4 separate regions of the Homo sapiens genome follow, and regions 1, 2 and 3 are each linked to region 4. The links come from fine-mapping of genetic effects on gene expression. A gene starts in region 4. Each other region holds a variant in brackets. All regions are shown on one strand. Distances are from middle to middle.

Evidence for each region.
Region 1: its variant is fine-mapped to the expression of FEZ2 in whole blood (INTERVAL, PIP 0.92).
Region 2: its variant is fine-mapped to the expression of FEZ2 in whole blood (TOPMed, PIP above 0.99). The same link has a PIP of 0.9 or more in monocytes.
Region 3: its variant is fine-mapped to the expression of FEZ2 in monocytes after LPS (Fairfax 2014, PIP 0.93). The same link has a PIP of 0.9 or more in whole blood.

The regions. Positions count from the first base shown.
Region 1 is chr2:36,538,168-36,546,844 of GRCh38, reverse strand. CRIM1 (cysteine rich transmembrane BMP regulator 1) reads right to left here. Exons shown (of 17, transcript NM_016441.3): 15 at 2,347-2,469. Among named protein-coding and RNA genes, the nearest start is that of FEZ2, 56 kb to the left of the region's middle. The variant T/C (reference allele first, on the strand shown) is at 3,414.
Region 2 is chr2:36,548,375-36,554,938 of GRCh38, reverse strand. It overlaps CRIM1 (cysteine rich transmembrane BMP regulator 1), which reads right to left. Exons shown (of 17, transcript NM_016441.3): 17 at 3,804-6,414. The coding sequence ends at 6,238. FEZ2 (fasciculation and elongation protein zeta 2) reads left to right here. Exons shown (of 8, transcript NM_005102.3): 8 at 1,760-2,681. The coding sequence ends at 1,776. Among named protein-coding and RNA genes, the nearest start is that of FEZ2, 47 kb to the left of the region's middle. The variant A/C (reference allele first, on the strand shown) is at 2,938.
Region 3 is chr2:36,556,333-36,565,009 of GRCh38, reverse strand. FEZ2 (fasciculation and elongation protein zeta 2) reads left to right here. Exons shown (of 8, transcript NM_005102.3): 6 at 6,497-6,572. Among named protein-coding and RNA genes, the nearest start is that of FEZ2, 37 kb to the left of the region's middle. RefSeq lists an enhancer at 2,733-3,932. The variant T/C (reference allele first, on the strand shown) is at 6,755.
Region 4 is chr2:36,595,695-36,604,371 of GRCh38, reverse strand. It overlaps FEZ2 (fasciculation and elongation protein zeta 2), which reads left to right and starts at 6,204. Exons shown (of 8, transcript NM_005102.3): 1 at 6,204-6,495. The coding sequence starts at 6,230. RefSeq lists enhancers at 3,356-4,281, 5,209-6,135, 6,136-7,063 and silencers at 6,136-6,355, 6,396-6,755.

The DNA.
Region 1 (8,677 bases), 58 kb after region 4:
AATGTTGATCCAAAGAGCTCTTAGTAGAGAGCAGAGCGCTTAGGGATGAATGTTAAAAAAAAAAAAAAAAAAAAAAAAAAATCAGAGTGAGAATCTTAATAATTGGGTAAGATGATGCCGGCTCTAGCTAATCAAGGAAATAAGAAGGTGCTTAGGTAGATTTTGAAAAAGTGAATTAGACCATGAAAATATTTTGATTACTGTTAACATACATGGTCTTCTCAGATTTCGAAGGAGAAACATTAGCTGATTTATTGGCAAACAGGAGACTAGAACAAAGTATGTTCTTTTACTATTAATTAATTAGTGTTAATAGCTAAGACTAATTAGATTAAAACTAATCAATCAGGAAGTTGGTCTTTTGGTTGATACTCTGGTTCACTGAACTCTAAGCAATATTGTCTTACTTTTCATAAACTTGTTGAAAATCTTGCTTAGGCCTATTAGATCATTTTTCTGCCTTAATGAATTATATCGCATAGGTGACTACATTTAGTTTTGCACTTATGAATGATGACCTTTATGTTCTTTTAAAATATCTCTCTTACAATGAATGTTGCAGACAAAAATAAGGTTAAACACATACCAATAGGGGGCACTCCCTAAAGTTTCCTTATTTTTATATTCTGTTTTGTTTCAAATAAATCATTGTAGTCAGGTTTTCTAAATGCATTAAAAATCAATTTAGTTAAAGACACATGACACACAGTATCAAAAGGAGTTACTCCTAAATTGTTCTGGAAATTCAGCTCATGAAGTGACAGAGCTTTGTGGTATGTAACACTGTGGTTTAAAACTCAGATTTTAAATGATATGCTTCTGTGTGTGTTCTGGAGGGGTGGTGGGAGCAGGGAGGAATGGGAGGTAGAAAACATTCCTAATCATTTTAGCCAGTGCAGATGGCAATAAAACTTTATAGAAACATATTTTCCAGCATCAAGAAAAATGTCAAAGAGTAACATTTTATTGATGAATTCAGATTTTAAATATACAATGAATAAAAGAATGAATTTTACTTTCCCATATTCCAAATCAAATAGAAAGCAGTTTTAGGAATATGTGTCATACAAGAAGAATAAGATATAAATTAAGGAAGGTCTTGGTGAAAGAAAAATGAAGCTGCAAGTGAGGTCTGTTTACAAAATTCAGTCTTCCAGTTCTGTTTCTGTGCTAAAACCAAGCCATCAAAGTTAGCTTTGAGCTTTGTAGCAGCCAAAGCCAAAAACGGAAACAACTATCAGTCTTTAATACGATTCACAATGTCTTTTAGGTTAAAACAAATCAGTTGCCTAGGAGAAGCATACATTTTCTTGCTATTGATGCATGAGAAAATTTCTCTTTAGGGGCTTTATAACATAGATACTATGCAATGCACAGGTCTTCAGTCATAAGAATAGTCGTACTTACAGTATGTTGAAGTCTAGCCTCTAGAACAGGGTCTGGCATACAGCAGGCACTAATATTTACTGACTGAATGAATGTAAGCATAATGCTAAAGCACACTCAGAACAATTATACAGAGAGCCAAAAACACTAGGTCCAGGAATTTGACTTTCTGGTCATCTGGTTTGATCCAAGCATAACGTTTAGAATATCTAGAGTAACAGACAATTAATCTCTCTCAAGCAATGAATATTGCTTCTTCCAAAAGAAATATAAGTTATATAGCAATGATTTGGAAAATATGGTTGGAGGACACAGGAGGCAGTACTGAGTCACGGCTAAGAGCAAGTTTATACTACTGATCAAGAAGAGGTCTACTTTTATAGAAAAGGAAATAGTGACAGCTATTGGGAGACAAAATAACATCTTTATTACGCACAGACTGAAAGGATAGAGCAAGATAAAAAGGCATGGAGTAAACCTGGTGACTAGAAAAATCAACATAGGTGATAAGTTTAGCTCACATGAAGTGAAAACTGCCCAGAAGTAGAGGGTAACCTAATGTACAAATGCTCAGTGCGGAATCTACAAGAGACAGTGACTAATTCATGATTACTCTCCTTACAAAGTTTATATATACATACGTTTGAGAGATGGCTTAGAAGTTCCAGATACCAGGCTCTTATGACTAGGAACATATTTATTTCCATTTATTTCCGTCATCACAAAGTCTCTGAGCACAGAGGGCCAGGAAGGAGGCATTTAATCCAGTTACCTGCTGACTTATTTTATCAATGTGTGGTGTAAATATGTTTCAGCCAAGCAGGTCTGCCCGGGAATAGTTATTTGAATTTACTTCAGCAAGTCATTTTAAAAGTTACTCATAGGAAATTTTAAAAATTAGAAAACACCTAAGTAGACCACATAGAAAACTAGCAGATCTCAGCTGCCTTCAATGCTTACCTCTAGGGAGATGGACGATATCATTTTCACTAGGCGTGGGCCACAGGGGAACCTCCAGGTCAACCTCTCCTCGATGGTTTGTCTTCTCAATGGGTATATTGGTTGGTTCTGGGACATACATTTCTAAAAGAAGGGAACATTTTTCCTAAGAGATGATGAAGCTGCTGTATTGTTGGCTTTTGTATTCTCAATCCAAATGGTGCACTCAATTCAAGACCACATTTCCTGGGACATGAAAGATGCAGTTTCTGCCATTTACATCATTCATCACTCATGCTAGAGAATCACGAGCTTTGCAGTGAGGAGAAACATGTCTTATAACATTTAAAAGATGAAAGAATTCTCTACTCCACCAGGGTCAAAAACTGCTTTTTCACGTCAAATGGTGTTGGTTTTATAATTTTATGGAAACTGAAGGGGACTAGCTGAAGTTATTTATTACTTTCCAGCAGCTAATAAATGTTGGTGTTTAATAGCTGCTGCTCTTTAATATGGGGGTATTGAATAACTTACATAAAATATGTTAGCAAAACTTGAAAAAGTTAAAGCACTGTCCACTTCTTATGGACTTCTTGGCCATTTCCTCTCCTTTCTCTTCCCCTAAATGGGAATGGACTGTAGGTAGACCTCATGAGTATAAGTCTCAGATGTCCATTATGTTACCACTGGAACCATTTAGATTAGAAGCTGATCTTCAGTAAATATATTTACATTATCCAGTTTGATCAGATAGGTATTATACTACAACATAAAACAAACAGAAGAATATTATTTATCTCAAATATCAGGTCTTTTTAAAAAAAAAAAAAATCAGAACTTTTCTCAGCTCCTACAAATATTTCTTTGTATTTATACTTCATCCAGCTAACGACAACTAGCCCCACATTTTAAAGCAATTAATTCTTCAGAACCTGTTTTCAAAATGTGACAATAAAAGTTTGTGTCATGCACGTATTTCCTTTCGGGCAGATCCTGCCATATTATTCACTGATTTTTTTATAAAGCAATTACTCAACACGTAGGATCCTAAATACTCACCATAGCCTAATTTAGACCAACATAAAATA[T/C]ACAGTATAAGTATATAAATTAAAATAGGATTAATAATCCCCTCTGCTCAGAGTGATTGTTTTCTGTCTCAAAGTTAACAGGCTTTTGAGAAGTAAACCTTAAGATGACTTTGAGAGAAGAGGAAAGTGATAGAGAAGAGAGTACTTGCTAAGCTTCCCCCATGAGTTAACTGGGTACCCAGCCAGGGAAAGAAACCCAGAGAGGTTAAGTTAAATCGCTCAAAATCATGCATCTAGTAAGTGGTAGAGCTGGGATTCAAATGCAGTTCTGTGATTCCAAAGCCCAAGTTATCTTGTTGCCTCCAAGAATAGTCTTCTGCTTTCTTAGTTATATTATAAAACCTTTAAACATAAAAAGAACTGGGAACAATTATAGTTTCTACAGGTTCAGTGCATCCCTGCAAACTCGAGAATTAAAAATAGAAGTTACTGAAAACATTACCATTTGCAGGTGCAGGGGCCTGAGCACAAACCAGTGACTCTCAAATTTTTAAAAATCATATCAGAATTACCCAAAGAGCTTAGAAAATGTGCTGACTCTCACAGGTCCTGATTCGGTAGGTCTGGACTAGGTGATTCCGGGAGGTGTGTGCAGGGGGATGGTATTTAATGCACCCACTGAAAAACTCTCATGTGTGGTATGAATTTCCTGGGTGAATATGGGCAGAAAAGCCATGTCGCCATTTACTTGACACCTTTCAGTGCCACACACACCCTTCTGCCCCTCCCCTGCCTAGTCCAGGGCTTCACACTGAGCCTTCCTATGACAATAGGGGCCGAACTGCCACTGGTTTCTGAGGCCTCAGTGTAAAGGGCAAATGCGACACCAATTCCAACAAACCTGTAAATGTCAATGGCTAAGTAGTAAAAGTTTCTGCAGAGGCCCCAGAGCTGGGATTGATTCAGTTCCACCTCAGGTTTTTTCCTGAGTGAGAGGGAGAGACGTAACTTTGGAATTCTTTTGCCTTGACCCTGCATATGGGTAGATTTCCGGTGAAACTCCACCAAGCTGAGGCATGACAGTGAGTCCTCTTCCCACAGGGGCTCTACTTGGAAACAGCAGGGAAAGTTAGAAGGATCTGTCTATGGTGAAGGAGGATGTCTTCTTCAGTGATTAATTGTATTACCATTTGTTCAACAAATATTTCCTGAGCACTTCCTACATGGCAGGCACTGGTTTTGGGCATACAGTTTTGAGTGAGACCAATCCTGGCCCCCATGGGTCTCTCCTGATGAGTGATGCCTGACAGCCACTTCTTACTTCCAGCAGCTCATAACCTGTCCTGTGTATTAGCTCACTCCACCACTCAGTTCAGCTCTGATTAAAATCCACCCACACCTCCTTCTTTATCACAGAACACGCACAGCTCCAGTTCACAGTCCTCAAGTCCAAGGGAAGAGAGTCATTTCCCTTTAATTTGAACATAAAAGGGAAGCTGCCTCTGAGCAGTTTTGCCAAAAAGAACAATTCTTTCAGTTAAAAAACTGCTTGTTGAAACAAAAAGAAGTGGGAATGCTATTTGTTTCCACGCCTAGACCCAGGCCGCCTTCTATGGCCAAAGACCGCCTTCAACCCAAGACTCTAAAATATAACCCTTCTGGTATTTACTAGAAGAGCCCTTTACAGCTGTTGGCATTACAGATGGACAGTGCCAGGGAGATTTACACAAAGCTACATCCAGCCCTACCACGAAGATCACGGGCACACGGTCACAATCGCTCCTGTGCTCATACTTGACCTGCGCTTTGGAGGAACTCAAGATAATTTACTGGGGATATATTTTACTTTCAGAGGCATCTGGTCATCTCTAAGAGTTGCCTTCCTTAAAATGTCCTCTTCTGGAATACGGGGCGAGGTGCTTGGTGCTTACAAGCTGAGGTCAGCATTTTTTTGGGAGATGGAACCTGAGGTCAATTTAGGAGCAGGGGTCTCATCCTCTGCTAACCAGCTCCATGACTTCGGATAACCCTCTTACCTTTCCTGAGCCTCAGTTTCTTCTGTAAAGAGACAGGTGCTAATCACCTAACAGCTCATAGGTTCTGTACTCATATCCAAAGATGGTAAAGGTGAAACTGTTTTGTAAAGAAAGAGGATATTCAGAATGTTAGTTGCTATGTCTAAAGGAAGAAGCAAGGTTCTTGTTTGCTGGACAGACCGGGAAGTGCTCCCACACCATCATTTCTGAGATGGTATAATCCTCACAGCATTTCTGGGAGGTGGCATGTGCTATCCAGATGAGAAATGGAAGCGTGAAACTTTGGTGGTGAGTCTTGACTAAGATCACACAATGAACCGATGCAAGAATGGGACAGGAATACAGCCTTCCTGGCAGCCCATACTGGATCAAACAGAAGGTGGCAAAAGCTCAACTGATTGCAGTATTTGCTTAAAGATAGAAAAATGTTTCATCAGGAATACAGCAGATGCAGAAAGGAGAGTTAACAGAAATTAAATTTCAACCCAATAGTAAATCTTAACTGAGAAGTCACTGGAGAAATCTCTAATGATGAACAAGGATGTTAGCAATATCTGTACTCTCTCTTATCAAACTCACAAACCAAGGAGAATGAATTGACCTCTATTTCTACCACCACTACCTGAATTTGGGTCCTTGTTATCACACCGAGGACATTTGCAGTGCCTGTTACAGCTGTCCTGGCCTCTGGTCTCTCTCTGCTTTAGTCCTTCCTGCACACCACCCTGTTACACAAAGGTTACCCCAAAACATCTTTGTGAACATGTCATTCAGCTGCTCAAAAATAAGCCTCCCCATTCCCTATAAAGAACAAAATCTACACTCTTCATTTGATAATTAAGGCCTGAAAAATCCTTGCCAAAGCTACTGTTTCTGTCCTTACCTACTGCTACTAAAACTCACTGCTCCAGAGGCACTGGCCTTGACCTTAGAGGCACCGGCCTTGACTTTTCCCATCTCAGGTCTTGGTTGGGTTATCCTCTTCACTCCAATGAAGACAGCACATCTGTCCTTTAAAATCTAGCTCATGTCCTTTCTCTGTGAAACCCTCCAAGGACCCTCAACTTCACAGTCTGTCTTATTCATGAACTTGGCACTTATGGTCTGCATGAGAGTTGCATAACCATAACTCGCAATGGGAGAGGTGAATTGAATTCACCTCTCCCATTCTTTCTTGAAATCACTCTGATTAGACTTTGCCTCCACCACTGTACTTCTGTGAAGTTCATTACAGCAGTGCTAAGTGCACAAGTCTGTTCCCACATCGCATCTTACGTGGCTAACAGTGGCGCTTGATTGAGCAGTTTACTCTTTCCTACCAGAAACCCTTTCTCCACCTGGTTTCCATGTCACTGACCCTCTTGGCTTCTTCCTTTATTCCTGGTGCTCCTTCTCTATTTCTTTTGCTAGGCCCTCTGCACCTGCTCAGTCTCCAAAAGTCAGAAGGTCTCAGGGCTCGGTCCTGCGCTCTCTTTTCTTTTCTATTTATTCTTACCCTTCGGTGCTCTCATCTAGTCTCAAGGCTTAAAAACCTTGAGACTAGAAACCACCTATGGCTAAACTTTCAAATTTGTAGATCTACTTTCAGTTTCTTTCCTGAAGCCCAGATTAGATATTTGTCTATTCATTAGCTCCACTTTGATGCTGAATGACTATTTCAAGCTAAAAATGCCCCAAACCAAAATGTCGTAGTCATCCTTGGCTCCTCTTCCACTCACTCCCCGCATACATTGAAATCCTACTGATGCGACTCATATGGCATAGTCAGAACCTGCCCACTTCTCCCCACCTCCACGGCTACCACCCTGTCCAAGTCACTGTCATCTCTCGCCCGGATTCTTAAAAAAGTCTCCAAGTTGGTCTCTCTGCTTTCACTATTGACCTCCATGCCCCACAGTCTATGTTCAACCCAGCACCAGAGAAATCCCATTCAAAGGTAAGTCAGATCCTGTCGCTCCCTGCTCCAAACCTTCCAAGGTTTCATCTCACTCAATACAATCTTGCACTCATCTGCGAGACCCTTTGTGTCTGGCCGTGGCTGCCTCTCTGCCCCACCTCTTACCTCCTCCATGCTCACTGAGTTACCTCCACACAGCTCCTCCTGAACATGCACCTTGAACACTGCTCTACCTTGAACACGCACAGCACGTTCCCACTCCAGGGCCTTGGCGCTGGCTATACCCAGAGGTTCTGCCTGTTCCCCATGAGAACTGCAATTCTGGGTCTCTTCATTAAATCTCATCTTGTTGGTAAGGTGCTCCCTGACCATTCTACATAATACAAAACAACCTGCCTGCCCCACTTCTCCCCAGCCTCTCTGTCTTGCTATGCCTTTCTCCAGAGCCGGATCCCCATCTTGGTGGCTACCTAGTTACTGTTTACCTGTTAGCTGCCTGGCTTCTCCCTACTACAACGTAAGCTCCGTGTGCACTGCTATTTGGTTCACTGCTGTGTCCCCAGTGCCTAGAACAGTGCTTGGCACATAAAAGGCATTAAATGACTCTTCGTGAAATAAATAAGGTCAAGTTTCATCATTTATATCATTAAAAGCATATTACTGGGGAAACTGGTATGAAATTTGTGAAACATAGGTGAATATACACTAGATAAAATAATTCCAGTGGAAAACCATATATTTTTTCTTATTCTCATTTAAAGCACTTAAGACTTGCTTTTTCCATATACACAGCAAGTGTGTATATGGAAAACTATAAAGAGAACCCAACTGAAGGCTCTGAAAAATGGTTCCACCCCCTTACCTTGCAGAACATCCTATCCTTTTTAGGAGATAAATGGACATTTTTAGAAATGCTCAATTGGGGCTAGTCTGCACAACGCCTAAACAAAAGGCCAACATGTGCAGAGCTCACTTAAACTCTTTGGGTTTAACAACTGCCCTATCTTACAACTGCATAGTACAGATGCACTTGTGAATTGGCATGGTTCCCAGCTCCCTGTATTGAATACAACAAGGTTCTCTAATATAATGCTGCGAGAAAACATGAGAATCGAGGTAAGACAGAAAAGCTCCTGACTCGCTGAGGACCTCAATGAGATCTTAGAGTGAGCCTTCACTTGGGTCTGTGTGGTCTATACCACCGGGAAATCTGTGTGTCTAGGGGTCAGTCCCCAGGGAGAGGGCTCAGGTCTTACATTTCTGGGATTAGACGCAGGGGAAAGAGGAATTGTTTGGCAGGAGATGCAGGCATGGAAACTAGGAGAAGGGCTAGGTGAGGCTCTGGGCAGCTGAGAAGGACTTAGGTTTGAAACTATGAGAGGGATAATGCA
Region 2 (6,564 bases), 48 kb after region 4:
TGCATCTTTGTAGTGTTTGATCAAATTTTGAGAGCAATCCTCTTCTAGTAACAGTCTTCTTCTCTGGGTTCTCTCTCTTCTCCATTAAAGTTAGCTGAGCACAAGGAAGATGAAGATTTCTGAGACATTAGAAACCTCTGATGGTCTTTTCTTAAACCATAGTGTCATGAAAGGGGAACCTCAGTAGTATACACAGGGTGCTCAAAGTGAATCACACATTTCACTTGTAAGAGTCTTGATGCGGTGAGAGTAAGAAGCATGAGCTAGACACTAGTGGGTTGACACTGGAGTAGAACAGACTGAGTTGACATCATTTTAAAAAATAAGCTTTTTTTCTGATGGAGGACTTTTTCTCCCTATAAAATTCTGAAAAATTTTTTTTTTAATACCTGACATCTTTGTTTGCTTTTGTGTTGTGCTAGCATTGGTATGAAAGCTGGATTGTTCTGAGGTTCGTTCTTCTAGATGTGAAACAGGAATGAGACGAACATAAAGAACATGTCTTAAATTTTAATTATATCGGGTTCCTAGGCCTCTATGAGGGCCAGAGATAGAATGAGCTTCTGAAGCATTCTCTAGCTATTTTAGCATTTAACTGCATGGAAGGATGTTATGACCCAAAGAACAGAGTCCTCTGGGGAAAAATGATTTTTAATTCTTTACTCTGAAAACCTAGGACTATAATTGTGAACCTACCTATACCGCATGCCTTAGGGAAGCAGCACCCATCTAATTCTGCTCCTCATGCTCGGGCCGCTGGCTCCTGTCTGTAAGCCCAGTTCTATCTATACTGTACCTGCTTCTGATGAGCTGTCTGTGTGCATGTGTTGTGGTTTTGTCTTGGCTTTGTATTGTGAGGACTGGGTGGAAAAGCAGCAAGGATTTAGACTACAGTGGAGACTGTAGTCAGAGAAAATGAAGACGGGAGTGCAATGTGGAGATGTATTTACCCAAATGTGTGTGGGAAGGTGGGGAAGTCGGGTCATTGAAAATGCTCTTTTCCACCCATCCTGAAAGTTCACAGCTGGTTAACTGTTCCTCTTCCTTGGGGACCAATAATACGACACTTTGCCCGGGAGGGGGATATTGCTCAAGGGGAGAATACTCCTTCCCCTTTTTTGGGTGGTTTGTTGTTGTTTTAACACAGATGAGAGTGTGGCTTGGCTGCCTAAATACACCACTTAGTTTTAATGCAAATGTCAGAAGTGAAAGAAGGTAGAAAAGTGGTCTCATTTGGCCTGAGAAAAGGGAGTAGGGTGGGCACTGTATGGGCTAATTGAGCTTCTCTTTCTCGCACCTGCCTAATGACCCCACTGCAGCCTGCCGCCACTGCTGCCTTGACAGTAGTACCCAAGGCTGATTCTGAAGTAATGTACGCGTGGCTGCTGCCGTGCTGCTAGTTAGGAATAAAAATGTGTGCAGAAACTTGCACCCTTCTTTGACTTCCCTAGGGATCCTGTTTGTTGTGTCACAAGCCTCATGGTATAGGGCGAATGTTAGGGGCTTCTATCTCCAAGTGGCACCCTAAGAGACATGGCCTTTTGGTATCTCATTTCTGGGAAATTCTAATGTGTGTTGAGAGAACTCATCCTTGTTGGGTATAGCCTCTTAAAACCTTTAAAAAATTGCTACATAGATCTTTGCATTAACATTTAGTTCTCATTACTTAATGGTTTTTAAATGTACATGTAAAATGTATGTTTTGTGTAAATGTATACAAAATATACATTTGTAGCTAAAAGTTCTCTTTTTCTTCTAGTTCTGTGTCCTACATAGAGCAGCAACTTTATCTGCGGTGGGCTCCAAGCTAGATTTCCGACAGCATTATTCTGAGAGCTGGCTACCATTACCCTTCTTGCTATTGGAAACTCAGCACATTTGAACTTGGGTTTGATTCAGTATTAACAGATCTTGACTACACTAATTCTTTATATTATAGAACCAACGGAAATATGGGCACTATTTTGAATTCTAGAGATGGTTTTTGTTAAATCTACTAATAAACTGTTCTCTTAGTAGATTAAGAGAGAGTAATATTAATTGTGCATGTGCAGTTGTATTTCTCATTAACTGACAGTATGCCCATTTGTTTTTATGGCTTTCTTATCTAAACTGCACTGATGAACTAGATTAAAGCCTTGGGAGATTTATACTATAAATTCAGTGATGGCAAGAACCAACACTGTTTTTTTGTGAGAATTGTCAGTGTAACTATTACCTACCAGTATTGTTCAGAGAGATTGAAACAGAATAAACGGGCTGTTCTTGAAGAAGCAAAACCAGAATATGCATTACTTTGGTTTAATACTTAGTGCTAACATTGAAACTGTTGGTGGTGATGGATTTTGTAGCTTGCTGCTTGTTTCACCACTGGTCAAATTTTAACCATTAAATTGCCATTCACTTTTAGAATCTTGTATTTAAGTTTTGATTTTCAAATGTTCTGCTTCATGTGTCTGTGAAGAATTGTACTTTAAGTGTGTGTCCTCTGAGGTGCTTGAGAAAGTGTACACTGCAGAACTGCCCATTCTCATTACTGTGTCCTATTTTATTCATGCCTGTGTGTTTTTCTTAAGTATGAATTCTAGATACAGCTACTTATGGATTCATCAATATCATGAGCACTTTTGCTGGTTCCAGTCAAATCAATGGCATTTAATAAATTTTTTAAGAAGTAAAAATACATGTTTGAGAGCCTTATATTTGGGAGTTTTGTGTTGTATTTTTTTTTTCCTTACAGTGCTAGATTCTTTCCCTTAATTCCACACAGAACCCATCGCTACAATATGTGAGCAGATGAAACCCTGATTAGTCCCAGAATGCTACGAAGGGGAAGAGGAGGACGTTTATTAGAGTATGCTGAGCTGCTGTGGAATGACAGAAGTAAGTCCTGCTCTTTTTCTGGGGCTGTGAGACATTTCAAAAACAGCCATGCAG[A/C]CCCCTCCCATAGACGACATGAATGAATTAAGAGTCTATATAGGACCTGCTACAGGCGGCTTTCACAATTCCACTTAAACACCTGTGAGCAAAACAAACAGGGCTAACATATTCCTCACTCCACTCAGCAACTGAGACACCATGACTGCAAAGGCAGGGGCGCGGTTTGAAGTTTAATGCCTGCTTGGCATTTCAGCCATCATCTCTAGGGGTATGAGAAACTCGAGATGGTTTCCTTGTTTTATTAATGTTCTTATTTGGAACTTACTGGCCCTTTCCCCAGATACATGTACTTACACAGTAATATTAATAATTTAAATTAATTTGAATTTGTAAAAATGACGCCTTGTACTGAAGAAATGTAGCTTTAAAGGGTATATGATATAGTAGAAAGTCCTTAGGGGGATATATTTTTTTAAAGGAGATTCAACATTGGTCTGTTTATAGCTCATTCTTAAATTGATGCTTCTAAAATGTATGAAAATATACCTATTTATTTTTTCCTGTCAGCTCAAAAAGTCTCTTTGCAGTTAGGCTTCCCCTGATCGTGCTCGGTAAAGTCTTTCTTCTTCAGCATCGAACCACTGTAGGATTTCCCACCACAGTCCTCCTGTGCGTAGCAAGTTAATTTTGATACCAGCTATGAGCACGTTTCTGACAGCAGGTAGGTTTCTTGTCTCCCTAAAAACAGCATCGCTATTCTCTGTACTCTGGGAGACACTTTTCTTTTTGCAAGGATACCTTGGGAAAGACCCGCCTAATGACAAAAGCACGGGACTTCTTGTTACACCAGGGGTTCATTGGACTGATAACCTTAAAAGTCTTTCGGATCTCAGAGATGGAATCTTTTTGCAAGTTACACTGTGTGATTTCAACTCAAAATGTTTATTTCCTGCCAAGAATCAAGTTGCAGATAATTCTCTTACAGCTTTTTTGAAGAAAACAAAAACAAACTGTAGAACTATGATGCACTCCAAGTGCCATATATCTATTTTATTCTTCAGGAAATTATATTTTTCTTTTACAAGAGCACAACAGGAACCAAAGTAAAAGAGTAATAGATACAGCACTCAGGATAAATCATATCTTTAAAATAATAATAAAAAAATTTACACCTTGTCCTATATCCTGTTAGTATTTTCATAATATGGCCATGATTGAAAAAACAAAAAGCAAGCATCTACAATTTTTTTTGATAAAGACTTTTTATGCCAGGAATGGATTAATTACCAACAAAATTTATACTAATCAGGCTGATGTCAATCTATTTTTGTAATGTATCATTAACAAATTTATTTTGGAAAAGATAAAAATATTGCCCCTTGATAATAAATCTTTTTTTCCTTTGATGCAAACAGCTAGAACACCTTTTTCTTTTTCTTTTTGATATTCTAAGACAAAAAAATGGTTAATCTTCAGATTAATAAATTAGGTCATTATAATAATAAATTAATTTTTTTTAAAGTTCAGCAACCTCTGTCCAAGTATTTACAACAATACTTGAAAGTTCCTTTACAAAACAGAACACATTTTCTTTTCACGTTAAGCATACTGGGTATCTGTGTCTTTCACAACAAGCATTTTTAAAAGAAAACTCAATGCACAAATGGGTTAATTAGTATAAAAGTGCTAAGGGCTGTTTGAAAAGTTACCACTATAGTATACAGTCAGTTATATTTGAGGCATACTACAACAAACTTCCAGCTTATTGTGGACAATATTCCAGTAGTTGTTTCAAACCATTGTTTGAAAAAAAAAAAAAAAAAATCCAGGAGCTGATTAGTGATGCAGATAAGAACTGCCATCAATGTCTCTGGCCAGTGAGCAAATTGAAAACCAACTGAAAGCAAATCCAAATGAGGAAGATTTTAATAAAGGAATACCCTTCTCCATAGCAGGTGCAATGCTGACTGCTCAAGGCGTGCGTGCGCGCGCACACACACACACACACACACACACATACATACTCTCACACACACATCTTTCCAATTAAACTGCAGGTAGAATGAGATTTTGTGTTATTCAAAAAATTTGTAAGTGATCAAAAGCACTGCTATGGAATGCCTGTTTATCTGCCTTTGTTCTGGTTAAAATCTCATAAAAATACATTCAACAGGAAAACATAAATTGTATGTGTATAAATATATATGTATATATATATATTATATACACATGCACACAAATACTTTTGTTTTTTGAAGCATAAGATAGTTACATAAATACTCCTATAATTGCTAAAGTTTAAAGAGGCATCATTTTTTTTGAGCTTCAACAAAGGTGCTTGAATAATATACAATTAAAATGAAGTAGTTTCTATTTTGTAGAATCAGTATATAATAAGGAAAAAGAATCCCCAAACAGTCTTTTTAAAAAAAGTTTCTTCTTAAGCTAGAGCTTCAACAAAAACTATGAACAACCAACAATATAACAGAACAAAGCAACAACAAACAGTGAAATATAGCCCCTGGAAATGCCTGGTGTTCGTCACCCTCTCCCTCCTCTTCCTGTCACGTTGTAAAAAAAAAAAAGCTCCAGTGCTCACATCAAGAAATGACTTAGATCTTGTTCATGTGCTGACTCTGCTAGGAACTGGCTGATTGATTGGCTTGGAAGAAAATAAAAGCAGCAAAAAGTGTAACTGTATATATCCTTAATAACCCGCTTTAGAGAAATGCCGCTATCGCATTTCTCTGGCTTCCTCACTGCCTACTGCAGTTGTGACTGTATAGAAAAGAAACTTGTGGCTTTAGACCTGGGATGGCTGTCAAAGGGTTCTGATGTGCTCGTCTGGTAGTTCTAAGGTGGTTATGGCAGCTGGGTCGCAAGGCCTTTTTTGTTTCCTGCTCATTCAGGCCTGAGCTTTGCAGCAACCAGTGCAGTCTTCAGAGCAATAGGAAAAAAATAACCTCTGGGCCACTGAACTGCTTTTATGTTACCAGGTTTCTCCCCGAGCCAAGCTGACCAATTTTTCTTCCCAACACCACCCTCCCACCCATTTCCCCATCCAAACTCACTGTCCCCACCCCAAATATCTCTACAGCTATCTTACAGGCAAATATATCTTAGCAACTTTAAAAACTTTGGTTCTAAGAAAACACTTGGTCAGTTATCTTGAGGAAAAGTGGGAATGCTTGTTCTGCACATTGCTGTAGACAGAGCCCATCCCAGTAAGGTCTTAGCGCTGTACATCAAGTCACAATCCAATACAATCCACTAAGCAAGTGCACAAATTCTAGTTTACTTTTTAGAGCAGATTTAGTCGTCTTCCGTCTTTTGAAACCTCATCCTAGTTGCCTTTCTTCACACTGTTTGGTAGAAATTGTCTGCCTGTAGATGGTTCTGTTTTTGCATGCTGTAGAAGCCACTGAATCTTGCATCTGGTTCTGCAATTCTTAGCATTCTCTGGGAACTGTCCACCTGGACTCTGGTTCCTTTCTTGCAGTCCACAGATACTAGCTGATTATTTAAGGAAGAAGGCTATTTAATGAGAGGAGGAATAAAACCACAAAAAATTAGTTGCTTTACATTATCTCAAATGAACAGAAATTTAGTACCTAACTCAGGTGAGATAACAGTTTCACAATTCATTGATTGATAGCCTGTATGCAGATTATCACATCTTGTTCT
Region 3 (8,677 bases), 39 kb after region 4:
TGCTTCTAGCTTCAAGTCCAGCAAATGAGGGGATGTCTCTCTTTTCCGTCAACCTATGGTCTGAAAGTTAAGCCAGCCATTGCAACACATTGGCACACAACGGGGGAGAGAAGACAGGGTTGCTGCAATAACATCTTATAAAAAGGAGGAGAGAATGGACATATTCCATAGATGCTGTGTTCCATCCCATTGAATGAGAATTGCAAGACCTCCTGCACACTAGCTGTGGCGTGAACTCCCGAGTTGGCCCGGTTGGCTGCTTTTGGTTTTGTTCTCTGAGAAGATCTCCCTTGTCCATTGTCCTTTGTGGCTCATCTAGGATGGGTGTATACGTCATATTTCAGCTCAGATGTCATCTCCTCAGGCAGCTTTTCTCTGGCGTCCGAGTAGAAAGTAGGCATCCAGTTTTTAATCGCCTTGCTGGAGCTAGGGATAGGGCATGTGTTAGTTATCTGCAGCATTCGCTTCATTTACGTGTTGTGCTTTTTGTGCCCCCTTATGCTGGAATGTAAGGTCAGGAGGGTGGGAGGGGCCTTGGCTGATGTGTTCACTCTGAATCTCTAATACCTGGAATGGTATCTGGCTCAGGATGTTTTTTGAAAGAAAGAGGAAATGAATGAACGAGGAGAATAAAATGCTGAAGGAGGAACCGGTTTTTAAATTTTTTTGTTTGTGTTTTGGTGGGGAAGAGGACATTGAATTCAGTTTTGGATATGAGTTTTAGAAATATTGATATTAAATATAGACAGGAACATAGGCTTGTCAATAGGCCATTAAACATACAATAGGTACAGATGTCCAATTGGCCATTAAACATGCAGAGTGAAGCTCAGGGAAATTACAGTAAAGATAGCTAACATGTACTGAGCTTTGCCATGTGCCAGTCTCTGTTCTTAGCACTTTACTGATCTTAGTAAAGTGGAGCTATCAATTTATGGAAGCAGAAGATGAAGCTATTGATTGGTAATACCCAGAGGGGGTGCATGATAATTAAATAGGGACAGAATCCAGAGGCACAGCAGCATCTGAGAGGTGAGTCAAGAAAGAGGCACAAGATCCTAGGGAACACTGGCATTTAAGGGATGAGTGAAGAAAGTGGCCCCTCTTAGAAGAAGCAACTAGAGAGCAGGAGGGTTGGGGTGAGGGAAATCTGGGAGAGTGTGGTGTCTCTGAATCCAAGGAAGCGGTTCAGGGAGGAGGGATTCCTGGATGTCTCAGAGATCTGAAAAGTGGCCGTGGTCTTCCAGATCAAATAAATGATGTTGGGAAGAGCTGTTTCAGGAAAACCTTGGGAAAGGAAAGAGGTTGAGGGTTTGAGAATTTCGGGATGCTGTCAGGAAGGAGCTAGTAGAGAGGGAGAGTTTGGAAATGCAGTGGAGGGAGAATATTGATGCTGCCTGACTTCTGGGGAGGTAGGAGTTGATTGCAACTGAAGCGTTTGATAGGAGCACGTTCTCAGACGTAGATTTTAGTTTTTTTTTTTTTTCTTTTTTTTCCTGTAGAACCTTCTGATTTCCTTGTTCTGTAATTTTCCAATGGATCAAGAGGCGATTGAACTGTACATGCTGCACATTGCTTCCCTGGTTCATTGCCAGTGAAAGAGCTGGGGACAGTAGGGTCTTGTCAGCTGCAGCCACTGACTCAGCAGCCATCAGCAGCAAGGACAGAGGTTCTGCTGCATTCCTTACTTTACCTTCTTTCACTGGCATCAGCTGTTAGTTTTGTTTTTCCAGGTTACCTTGGCTTCCCATGGGGTTGCATTTTCACTAATTTCCCCTAAGCCTAAAATTCTGGTGGCACAAAAGCCATCTTTCACAAGTAGTCAGGCTGTCAGTAGTTGAGATGGCTCAGTAATGTCTGCAACCACACATTTAATAAAGAAAACCTAAATTACATCTGCATGTTACGAAATTGAAACTGCATCAACTTTTGTTTTTTCTAGTGACAGGAATTGGCTTTCTGATTGCGAAAACAAAGCTAGTGTTTTTGGAATGTGCTTTCCAAATAGAAAGTGTGTCTTAGTTTCCTGATAGGTGGATTCTGAAACTTTTTATCTAGCTTTAGATTTTATGAATTTGTATCTAGCTTAAACATGCTCATAGATAATGGAGCCAGGTAATATAGACTAAGTACTTAAAAACAAGTACTCTTCTCTTTGTCACATTTGAAAGAAAATATATTTTATGAAAATAATTTAAAAAATAAACTGACTTGGTTATTTGAGAATAGTTTCTCATAATTGTTATTATATACTCTGAAGCCTAAGATGTTATCTCATTTGATAATCTGCTTAAAAAATATGAATGAATTATGATAGCATTGGAAAAATTTACAGAAATAGTTTTCTGTAGGTTTTTGTTTTATAACTAGCCTCCTCCATCAAAGCTAATAGTTATGCTTTCAGTGAAGTGAAGAGTAGTCAGCAAAGTATCTTGACTAGACATTTGATTCTTGCTGAAGCAAAACTGGCTTGCAAATCTGGGAAAGGCTAGGTAGGGAAGTTGGATGGTTTAGGAGGAGAGGCATATTTGTACAGTCTCCTGTAAGGTAGTAAAATTTGGAACTCAGATTTTCAGTAACTCCATAGAGTTACATGACTGATACAGAAGCACATAGCTCCCTCAGTGATTCAGCCTGTTGGCATTTCTTAGCTTTTTGTTATCAAGACTTCTTTACGCTCTTAAAATTTATCAAGGACCCCAAGAAACTTAATATTAGCCATGTTACAAATTAAAAGTGATAAAATTAAAAATATAAATTCATGAAAAATACCAAAAATAAATTCATTATAAAGAGCATATATTTATGAAAAATAATATTTTACAAAATCATGAAAAAATATCATTGCTGTGCATTTTTGTCAATCTCATTAACATCTGGCTTGATTAAAGACAGCTAGATTCACAAATGTGCTTCTGCATTCAGTCTGTCATTTGGAATATTTCACTGTAAGTCATGAGAGAATGAGAGTAAAAAAGACAACTTATATTTTAGTAGTATTAAGAAAACATTTTTGAACTCCTGAACTCCTGAGAGGATTTCAGGGACCTCTTGGCAGGAGTTGGGTGGGAGGGGGTCCCTGGACTACACTTTGAGAACCACTGGATGAAACTATATGTATTTCTTGATGACCATTCCCTTGGTTTCCTTTCTTCTGCCCCTTGGGGCCTGGTAAAATATTCTTTATGTTGACTCCTCAAATGTGTTTACTGATTTAAATTTCCTCTATAAAATTCCAGGGGAAGGAACCATCAAGTGAGTCAGGCCTTCACTTCCTTTTCACGAAGCCTTTCCCCTTAATTAGTCATGCTGTAAGAATCCATCTCACTCCTTTGACTCAGCCGCCATAGAGGTGCCACCAGACGCTTTTTACTATGCTTGATGACATTGTAGACTGGTTACAAATCAAGATAAGTTGTTTAGGAAAAAAATACTCCCTTTTCAGTACAAAGAATTCTAGGAAGTCTTGGAGGTTGCTGGGAGAAAGAAAGTAGAATTGTTTCCTAGAAACGGAGTGGAAAAGTCTTTGGAGAAGTTTTTGGGGGCCTGGCTGGCACATGGGATCCACTCTGCTCTCCAGGAAGCGTATGCCATCTTCTAGTTCGCATTTCTGCACCAAGGCAGTGGCAGGTGGCCCGAAGAGTGAGTGGGAAGCAATAATCAGCTCTCCAAGTAACAGCATTTTCATTTGCTAAATGTTATGTTAATGTTCTCCAAACTGATGGTAGAATTATACAAACTTAGGCTGAAAATACGCATACTGTTCATCTTAAGTTTTCAGACTTCTGATAAAATGTAGGTAAATAATATCAAAAAGTATCTTAAAAATTACACAGTAAATTTTGTATAGAACAAATATGTGTACAACTTACAACATTTACATTGGAACAATTAGCTACATCAGAAAAATGCCTGCATGAATATAGTAGCATAAAAACAGTTGCTTTTGCATTTAACTTGCAAAGAAATGGAAGCAACAGCATTTTAAAAAGAGCATGGGTTTATGTGCTTTATCTGGATGAGTAGTGGCATTTTCTAACTGCTTGCCTCTTGGGCACATAAGTCATCATGGTACATTCTTACTAATAGACTTTGAACTTCTTTCTCTGTCCTTTTCTTCTGGGCCGTATATTGCCGCCTTTAGCGCTTCAGCATGGAAGGGATCTCAAATGTCATTCAGAATGGCCTCCGCCACACCTTTGGAAATTCAGGTGGAGAGAAACAGGTGCTCGGTTATCCTTATTTTCCTCATTCTCTGCTTTTTCATTTTCTGTGTAAGTGAAGATCCTGAAAGCTGGTAGTTTACTAATTTACTAAGACCATTGCTTAACGAGAGAAATAAAAGTTTATTATAAAAGTTCATTATATTTATAGTCTTGATAATGAACAGAATTTCCCTTTGAGGAAAAAGCATTTTTCAAATTCGACAATAGATTAAATGCATTCTTAAGACGTGTTTTATAGCTCCATTTTTCACTCTTAGTTTTAAACAAATATTAACATTTTAACATAATGTATTGCATGTGTAGAAAATCTGCTTGTGAAAATAACTAAACTAAAATATGTGACTCTAATTCTAAAAGTCTAAGTCGCAAGATGTCATTTTTGGGGGAAGAAGGCCAGATGTCGGTATGTTTGAGACTAGAGTTCTAGGTCAAAAATATGTATAGAGTGTATCTTACCTCCTTTAAATGAAATTCATGTGTTTTTAAGGTGTATTGCATAGTCAGCCAACTCAGTTGTCTGCCAAACGAGGCATGCGACATTATTTATACAAAATTATACACAGATATGAATATATAATCAAGTATCTAGCAATTTGCTTTTTATTCACATTTTTGTATAATGATTGAAGGAATATCATGAACATGGGAAACATTCACATTAATGGGTATGCTTAAAATTACCTTTCACTATATGAAATTTTCACCTTGAAAAAGAAAAGTCTTTAAGTTAGCTCTTCTGTGCAGATTAAGAAGGTGTACAAAATGTAGCTTGTAGGAAGTTTAGCAAAAGAACGCCTAGATCAAATGCCTGGAGTTTTTACTGCAGGTAGTTAAGTGTTTCTCCGGAAGGGAGATCATTCCTATTAAAGAGGGAAGCCTCACACTGACATTTGCAGCTCATCAATGAGCTCCATGAAGGGATGTTTGAGTTTTTGTTTTCATTCCGTTGCCTCTCACCTCTCTCAACCTCAAAAGAAGACAAGGAATCTTCCAGACTGTCAGTGGAGCAGGGAGGCCTGAAGATGCAGCCAGGTAGCCAGAGAGCGGGCCAGGGTGCAGCCGCCTGGTGCCTCTCCAGGTTGCCTCACACATGCAGAGTGAAGCCAGGAGGACATCATTTCTGGCCTTTTGTTGTTGTTGTTCTTTACAAAGAAACATTCGATTATACAATTGGGCATCACCTGCAAGAAGTCTACGTCAAAAAGACGGTGGGACACTTAACGTGTCTCAGAGATTGAACTATGCAGTTTTACCACTTTTCTGGACTTAGGGATCCAGTTACTGTAAAGCAGCTTTCTTTATCCTGTTTTTCAGTTATGGGCAGGATAAGATCACTCAGTGAGGATTAGCCACAGAGCTGAGATTTAGGGCACGAGGTTAAATAATGGGTGGAGCTAAGAGATTCCAGGTAAAAACCACTGGCTTTCTATATGAGCATATGTGAAATGCACGGAACTATTTTTTTGGTGGGATGGTAAGAACAGGAAAATCTGGACAATCATTTATGGATTATGCTTTCATGGGATTAGTTAAAAGACATGGCGCTGTTACTTGTGAGCCTTTACAAGTAGTGAACTAGGAAGTTTATCTCAATTTCAGACATTAATTTTCATTATTCATTTCCCCTTAGGCCATTCTCTACTTTAACTTTTCTCCTTTAATGCCTAAAAACGTTTACAATGACTTACCCAATAATTTAAAATAATAGTAACGCATTTCTAAAACGATTTAAGTGTGTCTTTGTTAGCTTCTGAAAGAAGCTAGTGTGTGTTTTTCAAAGTTGTCATGTTATATATGTGGACCATTTGTTCAACCAGAATAAAAATGGTCTGAAACAGAATTATTTTGCTGTTGGAAATTACTTTATTGTGCAGAACTGTTAAAACTATGTTTTTAGTTTAAATTGCTATTTTTAAAATGTGTTGAAAAATATGCAAGTAGAATGTGAGATAATACTTCACTTTAAAAATGAACAAATTGAGTAAACCATCCTCAGACTTAGTCCTATGAAATTTTCAATAACTGAAATGCAAAAAGGTGGTTGTTTCTGTTGACATTAGGTTTGTATGAAGCAAATAGAGGTGGGCAAAAAAAAATGAGCTCCATCTGAGATAGTAAGATAACTTTATTCCCATACAATACCTGTGTTTTCATTACCAAAGTAGCTTGTGTTTTATATTATCAGATAGACCTTCTAGTAACAGTATCAAATTTTTTGCAGATAAGGTAATTCCGATTTAAGTGACACTTTTTTTTTTTAAACTTGGCAGTATTTGACTACAGTCATTCCTTATGAGAAAAAAAACGGACCACCGTCTGTTGAAGATCTTCAAATATTAACAAAAAGTGAGCAAAGACAAAATGAAACTATTACCTGATTTCCTTTTGCTGATTGGTAAACACCTGACTTTAGTTGGCTGATTTTGTTGTTAGTGTTTTGTCAGTTTAGGATGTAAATGATGCATATAATTGTTTATTTTTATAAGAATGAAGCCAAAAATGGCTGTGACATTAAATACAACAGTAAC[T/C]CTAGTGTTGATTTGTACTTTTTCTGTTTTTCTTACCTTGTGAAATATTTATGAGCTAAAATTTTGGGAAAAAGCATAACCTAAATCTCCATCATCTCTTACATGTTTAAGAACATATCCATTTATCATAAATAAAATTCCTTATGGATCTTATATATCTATGATTGTCAGTAACTGAATAGGAAAGATTTACGGTAAACACTTTTTATTTCTTATGAATGTAGAACCCGAGGTAGTAGTTATAGGTAGAACATAAATTGACAGTGATGTTTTAAGAACATGCATTCATTCAGCAAATATTTAGTGAAGGCCTACTCTGTACCAGGCCATGATCTGGGCACTTGGGATACTTTAGTGAACAAAGCAGACAAAGATAATGCACCTTCAAGGGGCTTGCCTTAAAAAAAAAATTGTTAGATTTAAATATACATGATATTGAGTATCTCTTATGATGGCCGCAAATGAGCCTTGAATTCTGGTTCTATCCCTGTTATTTTCAGGGATATCCTTGGAAGTTACTTACTCTCTTTTGCTTACATTGAAAAACTAGGATAAAAAATATTTGTTCTATTTACCTCACAGTAAATAGATTAATATATGTATGATTTTGGCTAAGTTACTATCAATTAGCCGTTAAAATGGAGGGATTGAATTTGCTGATCTGTTAGGTCTTTGTTATGGTAAATATTTATGATACTTGCTAATTAGGGGGGAACCAAATGAAAGAGCATCACATGGATGAGTATGGATGATGATACTTATTTTGGAAATTTAAGAGGAATGGGCAAGGAAAACCTAAGAGTAGAAGCAAGTGTCTTATTTCTTAGCTCCCTGCCTGCTAACTTGGAGCTTTTATTCTTTCCTTTGGTGAATAATTCTTTAAAAATTTTATATTTAAATATGGATAAATCAAGTGATGCCAGCCAGTCTGAAATAAAAAATCAAGAGATTAACTGGGTAGCTAGCCCTCTTATTTTCAGGAAGAACTTAAGTTATATGTGTCCAAGATCACACAGGGGGATGGTTAGTTACAGAGCTGGATCTCTTAATTCCCAGGCAATTATACTTTTAATGATGCTGGTTTTTGGTATGTGATTTTATTTAGAAGTTAGAAAAAATTTTAAACATGATTGGAAGCAGAAATACTGAACATGGTAGCCCTCTAAAGAAGGGAACATAAATATTGCTCATAAGCCAGGAATTACTGGCAGGCCTCAGCTTCTCAGATCAAGAACAAATACTTCATTGGTCAAACTAAAGTCATCATAATTCCAGCATCGAGATGTCTTTATAGGTTGTCACAGTTTGGAATCTCTGGACATATTTGGGTCCAAAGCTCCTTTTCTTTCCAAAAGAAGAGCCCTGTGGAGACAGTCACAGTGTTTATGGATATATAGTCTTCCTGATAAAAGCTATTAGGGGATTTTGGGTGCAATAATAATAGTTAATAAAAATTTAAATAATTTGAGTAGTGTTAGTTACAGTTAATACATAGCATGTACTATGTGCCAGGCACTATGATATGACCTTTATATCTGAATTAGTAGCTTAGTCCTCATAACAAACCTTTGAGATTAAATCTAATTATTATTCTCATTTCACAGATGAAGAGCTTGGTGCAAAAGTGGTTAAGTAGCTTGCTCAGCGTCACACAATTAGGAAGTGGCAGAGCCAGGGTTTAAACCCAGGAAGGCTGATTTGACAGTTACACTATTTTGCCTTGTCGTATTGGTGGGGAAAAACAGTGAAATATTTTTACCAGGATGCTTTGGAGAAAATTTGAGTTGGCAATCTCTGTTAAAGTATAATATTTGTGAGTTTATCTCAACCTGAATGGTCTAGCTTAAAAAAGAAAAACGTTATACTAGGTGGCTGCTTTTTCTATTTTAGTTTTTACTTAGAAGATAAATTTGTCAAATTAGA
Region 4 (8,677 bases):
GGGGATGCGATGGCTTGGCTTGGGCTCAGAGGCCTGACATTCCTGCCTTCTTATATTAATAAGAAAAATAAAACAAAATAGTGTTGAAGTGTTGGGGCAGCGAAAATTTTGGGGGGGTGGTATGGAGAGAGAATGGGCGATGTTTCTCAGGGCTGCTTCAAGTGGGATTAGGGGTGGCGTGGGAACCTAGAGTGGGAGAGATTAAGCTGAAGGGAGGTCTTGTGGTAAGGGGTGGTATTGTGGGGATGTAAGAAGAAACATTTGTCATATAGAATGATTGGTGATGGGCTGGATACGGTTTTGTATGAATTGAGAAACTAAATGGAATAAGAGAAGGAGAAAAACAGGTATAAAAGGTCTAAGAATTGGGAGGGCCTAGGACATCTGATTAGAGAGTGCCTAAGGAGATTCAGCATAGTCCTGCCAGCAAAGATTATTTATTTACTTCAAGAGTTTAGAGTGGCAGTTTGGGGATAGCACCAGGAGATATCAGCTGTGATGGCTTGGAGAAACAGCGTAAACCGGCAGTGTAAACAAGAGCAGGGCATGTATGAGTAGTTGAGAACGGTGAATAGGAGTATGACTAGACAAAAGATAGTACGGATGACAAGTTTTTTTGGGGCACAGTCTAAGTTGGTCTGGTGTCGAATGAGACTGGGGCCTAATAAAAAGGAGTGTCTATACAGGAGCTTAAATGGGCTGTGCCCTGTAGCATTTTGAGGACAGGTCTGACTTCTGAGAAGCGAAAGTGGTAAAAGTATTGTCCAGTCCTTTTTAAGTTGGTGGCTGAGCTTGGTGAGGTGTGTTTTTAAAAGACCTTTTGTCCATTCTAATTTTCTTGAAGACAGAGGACCATAAGGGATATAAAGATTTCACTGAATACTAAGAGCCTGAAAAACTGCTTGGCTAATTTGACTAATAAAGGCTAGTCTGTTATCAGACTGTATAGAGGTGGGAAGGCTAAACTGAGGAATTATGTCTGACAGAAGGGAAGAAATGACTGTGGTGTCCTTCTCAGACCCTGTAGGAAAGGCCTCTACTTATTCAGTGAAAGTGTCTATTTAGACTAAGAGGTATTTTAGTTTCCTGACTCGGGACATGTTGAGTAAAGCTAATTTGCCAGTCCTGGGTCGGGGCAAATCCTCGAGCTTGATGTGTAGGGAAGAGAGGGGGCCTGAATAATCCCTGAGGAGTAGTAGAATAGCAGATGGAACACTGAGAAGTTATTTCCTTGAGGATAGATTTCCATGATGGAAAGGAAATGAGAGGTTCTGAGAGGCGGGGTAGTGGTTTGTACTATAGCATAGCCTGCCTTTGCTGGTGTGTGGCGATTAGGCCTGGTGGAACTGCCATCAATAAATCAAGTGTGATCGGGGTGAGGAACAGGAAAGAAGGAAATACGGGGAAATGGGGTGAATATCAGGTGGATCAGAGAGATACAGTCATGGGGGTCAGGTGTGGTATCAGGAATAATGTGGGAGGCCGGATTGAAGTCCGGGCCAGGAACAATGGTAATTGTGGGACTTAACAAAGAGTGAGTACAGCTGAAGGAGCCGGGGAGCAGAAAGTATATGCGTCAGGTGTGAGAAGAAAATAGATTTTGGAAGTTATGAGAAATGTAGAGAATGAGTTGAGCATAGTTTGTGATTTTTAGGGCCTCTAACAGTATTAAAGCAGCGGCAGCCACTGCATGCAGACATGAGGGCTAGGCTAAAACAGTAAGGTCAAGTTGTTTGGACAGAAAGGCTACCCGGTGTGGTCCTGGCTCTTGTGTAAGAATTCTGACCGCACTAACCATGCCTAGGAAGGAAAGGAGTTGTTCTTTAGTAAGGGATTGAGGTTTGGGAGATTAATCGGACACGATCAGCAGGGAGAGCACGTGTGTTTTTACGAGAATTATGCCGAGATAGGTAACAGATGAGGATGAAATTTGGGCTTGACTGAAGTAATGGGGGCTGTCTGTGAAGCCTTGCGGCAGTACAGCCCAGTCAATTTGCTGAGCCTAATGGGTGTCAGGGTCAGTCTAAGTGAAGGCAAAGAGAGGCTGGGATGAAGCGTGCAAAGGAATAGTAAAGAAAGCATGTTTGAGATCCAGAACAGAATAATGGGTAGTAGAGGGAGGTATTGAGGATAGGAGAGTATATGGGTTTGGCACCACGGGGTGGATAGGCAAAACAATTTGGTTGATAAGGTGCAGATTCTGAACTAACCTGTAAGCCTTGTCTCGTTTTAGGAGAGGTAAAATGGGGGAATGGTAAGGAGAGTTTATAGGTTTTAGAAGCCCATGCTGTAGCAGGCGAGTGGTAACAGGCTTTAATCCTTTTAAAGCATGCTGTGGGATGGGATATTGGCGTTGAGTGGGGTAAAGGTGATTAGATTTTAATGGGATGGTAATGGGCATGAGATCGGTTGCCAGGGAAGGAGTAGAGATGTCCCATACTTGTGGGTTAAGGTGGGGGGATATGAGAGGAAGACACGAAGGAGGCTTTGGGTTGGGGAGAAGGGCGGCAATGAGATGTGGCTGTAGTCCAGGAATAGTCAGGGAAGCAGATAATTTGGTTAAAATATCTCGGCCTAATAAGGGAACTGGGCAGGTGGGGATAACTAACAAAGAGTGCATAAAAGAGTGTTGTCCAAGTTGGCACGAGAGTTGGGGAGTTTTAAGAGGTTTAGAAGCCTGGCCGTCAATACCCACAACAGTTATGGAAGCAAGGGAAACAGGCCCTTGAAAAGAAGGTAATGTGGAGCAGGTAGCCTCCGTATTGATTAAGAAGGGACGGACTTAACCTCCACTGTGAGAGTTACCCGAAGCTTGGCATCCGTGATGGTCTAGGGGGCTTCCGAGGCGATTGGGCAGTGTCAGTCTTCAGCCGCTAAGCTGAGAAGATCTGGGAAGGAGTCAGAGAGCCTTGGGCCAGAGTTCCAGGGGCTCTGGAAGTGGCTACCAGGTGAGTTGAACAGTCCGATTTTTCAGTGGGGTCCCGCACAGATGGGACACGGCTTAGGAGGAATCCTGGGCTGTGGGCATTCCTTGGCCTGGTGGCCAGATTTCTGGCACTTGTAGTAAGCTCCTGGGGGAGGAGGTTCTGGAGGAACCCCTGGCCGCTGCGGTTCGGGCGTTTGGAAGTTCTTGTGTGCTGGAGATGTGGCTGGGGTTTGTCTCACAGTGGAGGCAAGGAATTGCAACTTTATTCTATTATCGTACACCTTGAAGGTGAGGTTAATTAAGTCCTGTTGTGGGGTTTGAGTGCCAGATTCTAATTTTTGGAGTTTTATTTAATGTTGGGAGCAGATTGGGTAATAAAATGTATATTGAGAATAAGACGGCCTTTTGACCTTTTAGGGTCTAGGGCTGTAAAGCGTCTCAGAGTTGCTGCCAAACGAGCCATGAACTGGGCTGGATTTTTATATTTGATGAAAAAGAGCCTAAATGCTATCTGATTTGGGATAAAGAAAAAGGAGCATTAACCTTGACTATGCCTTTAGCTCTAGCCATCTTTTTAAGAGTAAATTGCTGGGCAGGTGGGGAAGAGCTAGTCGCGGAACTAAACTGTAAGCCAGACCAGGTGTGAGGAGGGGAGGTGATAGAAGGATTATAGGGTGGAGGAGTTGGGGCTGAGGAAGAATTGGGACTTAGCTCGGCCTGGCGACGAGCAGCCTGGGGAGGAGGGGAAAGGTCAGATGGGTCTGTAGAAAAGGAAGACTGGAAAAACTCAGCGACGCTTGGGGTTGGGACTGAGGGGATAGGCAGGAGGGAAAGGAGGATCTGGGAGGAATCGCATTGGGAACAGAGGCTAGGGAGGGAGTGAAGTGTGAAAAATGCCTGGACGTAAGGCACCTCAGACCATTTGCCCATTTTTCTACAAAAATTATTTAGGTCTTGTAGGATGGAGAAATCGAAAGTGCCCTTTTCTGGCCATTTAGAGCCATTGTCAAGTTTGTATTGGGGCCAAGTGGTGTTGCAGAAGAAAATAATGCATTTAGGTTTTAGGTCAGGTGTGAGTTGAAGAGGTTTTAAGTTCTTGAGGACAGGCTAAGCGAGAAGGAGGAGGAATGGAGGATGGAAGGTTGCCCATAGTGAAGGAGGTAAACCCAGAGAAAAGAGAGCGTAGAGACATGGAGGGAAGGGGTTCGGGGTTGTTACCCTCCAGAAAAGCGGGAAGGGGGGTTGGGGCACGGAAATAAGGGATTGGGGCACAGAGATAAGAGATTGGGGTGTGGAAATAAGGGATTGGGGGTTCTTGCCACCTAGAAAAGCGGGACTTGCCGCTAAGGGTGAAGGAGAAGGGGTTGAGGGGTTCTTGCCCCTGCCCCAGAAAAATCACAGAAGGGGTAGAGACAAGGAGAGAAGGGGTTGGGGTACTCGCCCCTTCCTCAGAAAAGCGGGACTTGCCGCTAAGGGTGAAGGACCAAGGCAGGCGTCCCTGCGTGGTCTGACACCTTTGAAACGTGGGTGAATAATCAGAGGCGTCCCTGCAATGATTAAACACCAAGGGAAGGCTGCCTTCCCAGCCCGTGACCGGCGCCGGAGTTTTGGGTCCACGGATAAAACGTGTCTCCCTTGTCTCTACCAGAAAATGAAAGGAACTGAAATTAAGAGAAGGGAGAGATTGAAGTGCGGCGCCAAGATTGAAAGGAGAAAGAGGTTGAGGGATAGTGAGGGAAGCTGGAGAAGACAGTAAAAAGAGGCCGCTTACTGGATTTGAAATTGGTGAGATGTTTTTTGGGCTGGTCGGTCTGAGGACCTGAGGTCGTAGGTGGATCTTTCTCATGGAGCAAAGAGCAGGAGGACAGGGGGATTGATCTCCCAAGGGAGGTCCCCCGATCCGAGTCACGGCACCAAATTTCATGTGCGTCCGTGTGAAGAGACCACCAAACAGGCTTTGTGTGAGCAACACGGCTGTTTATTTCACCTGGATGCAGGCGGGCTGAGTCCGAAAAGAGAGTCAGCGAAGGGAGATGGATTATCATTAGTTCTTACAGGTTTTGGGTCAGGCGGTGAAGTTAAGAGCAATGTTTTGCGGGCAGGGGTGGATCTCACAAAGTACATTCTCAAGGGTGGGGAGAATTACAAAGAAACTTCTTAAGGGTGGGGGAGATTACAAAGTACATTGATCAGTTAGGGTGGGGCAGGAACAAATCACAATGGTGGAATGTCATCCTTAAGGCTATTTTTACTTCTTTTGTGGATCTTCAGTTACTTCAGGCCATCTGGGTGTATATGTGCAAGTCACGGGATGCGATGGCTTGGCTTGGGCTCAGAGGCCTGACAGCTAGATTTTGTATTTTTAGTAGAGACGGGGTTTTACCATGTTGGCCAGGTTGGTCTTGAACTCCTGACCTCAAGCGATCCGTCCACCTGGGCCTGCCAAAGTGCTGGGATTATAGATGTGAGCCACCTCGCCTGGCCTACTCCAATTTTTTTGTATTGTAGTAAAATAAACATAAAATTACTATCTTAACCATCTGTAAGTGTATAGATCAGTGGCATTCAGCACATTAACACTGTCGTGGAACCATCACCACCATCCATCTCCATAACTCTTTTCATCTTGCAAAACTGAACCGCCCAATCACACTTAGTTTTTATGAGGTCTAAACAATTTCTTGTTACTCTTATCACTCCGACATTGTAAGCCCTGTGTATGGGGCACCCATGTATTAGTTATAACATACACATAGGGTATCTACTATTAGGCATTGCTCTAAGTGCTTTGCAAATGTTAACTGGCATAATTATCTTTGTATGTTCTGCAGGATCTAGCCAGTGCTTTGCACGTGAGAGGTAAAATATTTGAGGAATGAACTTCGGTACCACCTAAACATTTCCCATTGACTCTGGCTGTTATTCTGGTTGGCAAGTTAGGAAAGGAGCAGGTTACCTTGGGGAAAACGACTTTCGGGGCGTAATCTGATATTAGGTCGTAAGTTTAAAGAAGTCCTTTATTTTAGCCACATTTAGGCCAAGTTGCTAATAAGGGAAGCTAACAGGGAAGTTATTCCTAAATGATAGAGAATATAGGAAGTGACTCAAGGCAGTTAAGGTCTTGGCTTTCTAGTAGCACCGCGTTCAACTCCAGGAAGACTCAGGCCACCGGAGACCCAGGGTTGGGACAGCCTGGGATCTGTCAGCACGGTAGCGGGCGGGGGCGGGGCTTCGGGCCGGGGCGGGGCCGGGCTGGGCGGGCTGGGCCGGCCTGGGCGGGGCGCGCGACTGCTCCGGGCGGCGATGGCGGCGGACGGGGACTGGCAGGATTTCTATGAGTTCCAGGAGCCGGCCCGGAGCCTCCTGGACCAGGAGAACTGTAACGCGAGCCCCGAGCCTGGGGCGGAGGCGGGGGCCGAGGCGGGTGGGGGCGCCGACGGTTTCCCGGCCCCGGCCTGCAGCTTGGAGGAGAAGCTGAGCCTGTGCTTCCGCCCCTCGGATCCGGGCGCCGAGCCCCCGAGGACGGCCGTGCGGCCCATCACGGAGCGCAGCCTCCTGCAGGGGGACGAGTGAGTGCGGGGCCCCGGCCGGGAGTGGGCGGGAGCCTCCCCTACCCCTCGCCCGACCGGCAGCCCTACGGCCGCAGCTCCTCCCTGCGCCCTCCTTCCGCCCGGACGCGGGAGTCCCCGCCCTCTCGCCTCCTTCCTCCGGCCGTCGGCCTCGGCTCGCCCAGCAATTTAAATCCCCTGCCCCCCGCCGCCACGAGCCCTGAAAACCTCCGCCTCGGTACCTCCCGCCCTCCTTCCTGCAAACCAAACCCTCGTTTGTATTAGAAGGGAATCGCCCATGCAGAGCCCATAGTTAGAGACGGCACCTCCTGGGGCACCTCCTGGGGCACGTGTGTCGCCATTCATTCACTCAAGTCGCATTTATTAAGCACCTGCTGAGTGCCAGGCGCTGCTTCGCACAGGGAACACCAAAACGACTGGGCACTGTCCCTCCCACTTAGGACACAACGTAGGATGGGAGATAGATTTGTAAACAAATACATGTATGGATGTAATTAGCGCTGCAATGGTTATATGTACCAAATGTGAGAGACTTAAAAGCGTGTGTCTTGGGGAGAGTAAGGAACGACTTTATAAAGAAATGTGCAAACGAGATCTGACTGATGAGTGGGAGTGTGCCTGGCAGGTGGAAAAAAGTCTAACGTTCTAGGTGGAGTATATTGCCTGTGCATAAGTACCAACGTGCGAGGCAGCATTTAGGGCACAGGAATCTGTGGGACCCACCCGGGAGCCCTGGTAGAGTGCGAGCCGCCACAGAGACGAAAACGAAGGGCCCTGCTTACTGATGGTAACGATCGCATGGTCTGGTGGGGAGACCAAGGCATACACAAGTAATATTAATAATTACAGAATCACCTAAGAGCAATGATAGGAGGTTCACGGGGTTTTATCACAGCTGGGAGAGGTGAGGCGCAGAGTTCCTGAGGGCACTTTTTAAACCACCTGAGCCGCAATTATAATTTGGTTAAGTAAGAGTTGTAATTAGGTACCATGGTTTTACCCCCAAAAGATGGTAAATAGGAATGGTGAGAGTAAAGGGACTTGAGCATGTTGTGTATATAGGGGGAGAGGAGCCTCCGGAGAGGCTGAAGGTAAAATGAGTGGAATAAGATTGGGCGCGGTGGCTCACACCTGTGATCCCAGCACTTTGAGAGGCTGTGGTGGGAGGATGGCTTGCTTCCAGCAGTTCGAGACCAGACTGGGCAATATCGTGAAATCTGGTCTTTACAAAAAAATTAAAAAAAAATTAGTGAAGTCCGGTGGCGCATGCCCGTGGTCCCACGGACCCAGCTGCCCGGAGGCTGAGATGGCAGGATTGCTTGAGTCCTGGAGGCGAAGGTTGCAGTGAGCCATCATCGCACAACTGCACTCCAGCCTGGGTGTCAGAGCGAGACTTTGTCTCAAAAATGAGGACATGGGAAGGAATGGATTTTCAGAGCATTGATGGGATGGAGAGACTCTTAGAGGTTAGGGAAGAATTTTTGAGAGACAGGACAGGAGTCACGGGCACGGAAAGGAGTTTCCAGCCTGATTGTCTCCTTTCCTTTGTGAAACAAACAGATTTATCAGGAATAAGGTAGGAAGCTTGTAAAGACAGCCTTGGGAGTGGGGCCTGTAAACATGGCTGAGCAGTGGTGCAGGCCCACCTGTGTTTGGAGACCATCTCCTTTTATTGGTTCCTCAGTACAGTGTTCTGCCCAGGTGTAGAGAAGGGAAACACTTATAATTGGATTTTATACACACATGCATGCCGTCAGTAGCAAAAGATGACATTTTTGGAAGCCTGTTCCCAAAGAGAAGATAATTTTATGTATATGTAGATTTAGATACTCTGAATCACTAAACCCAGGACACATTCTGGATTTAAAAATTAGTGTAGATGTATTATGTATTTGGGTTTTTCAAGAGTAGCTGACTTAAATCAATTAGAGGATTGTACGTAGATCGTTAAGAGTTTTTGTTTCACTTAGACCGTCAGGAGAGTAGGTTATTTTAGCCTTTGCTTAAAAATATTTTGTCGCTCTTGTTAATGGTATTTAGTAGATGATATGTTGGTGGTAATGCATGTCTCTTGACTTGGGAATGCATATGAAATCTCTTTTTTTCCGGGAGTTGGGAGCTGGTCATCACTGGCATTGTCCCTTTTATATTGCAAAAACATACTCATCATTGCTTGATAGTC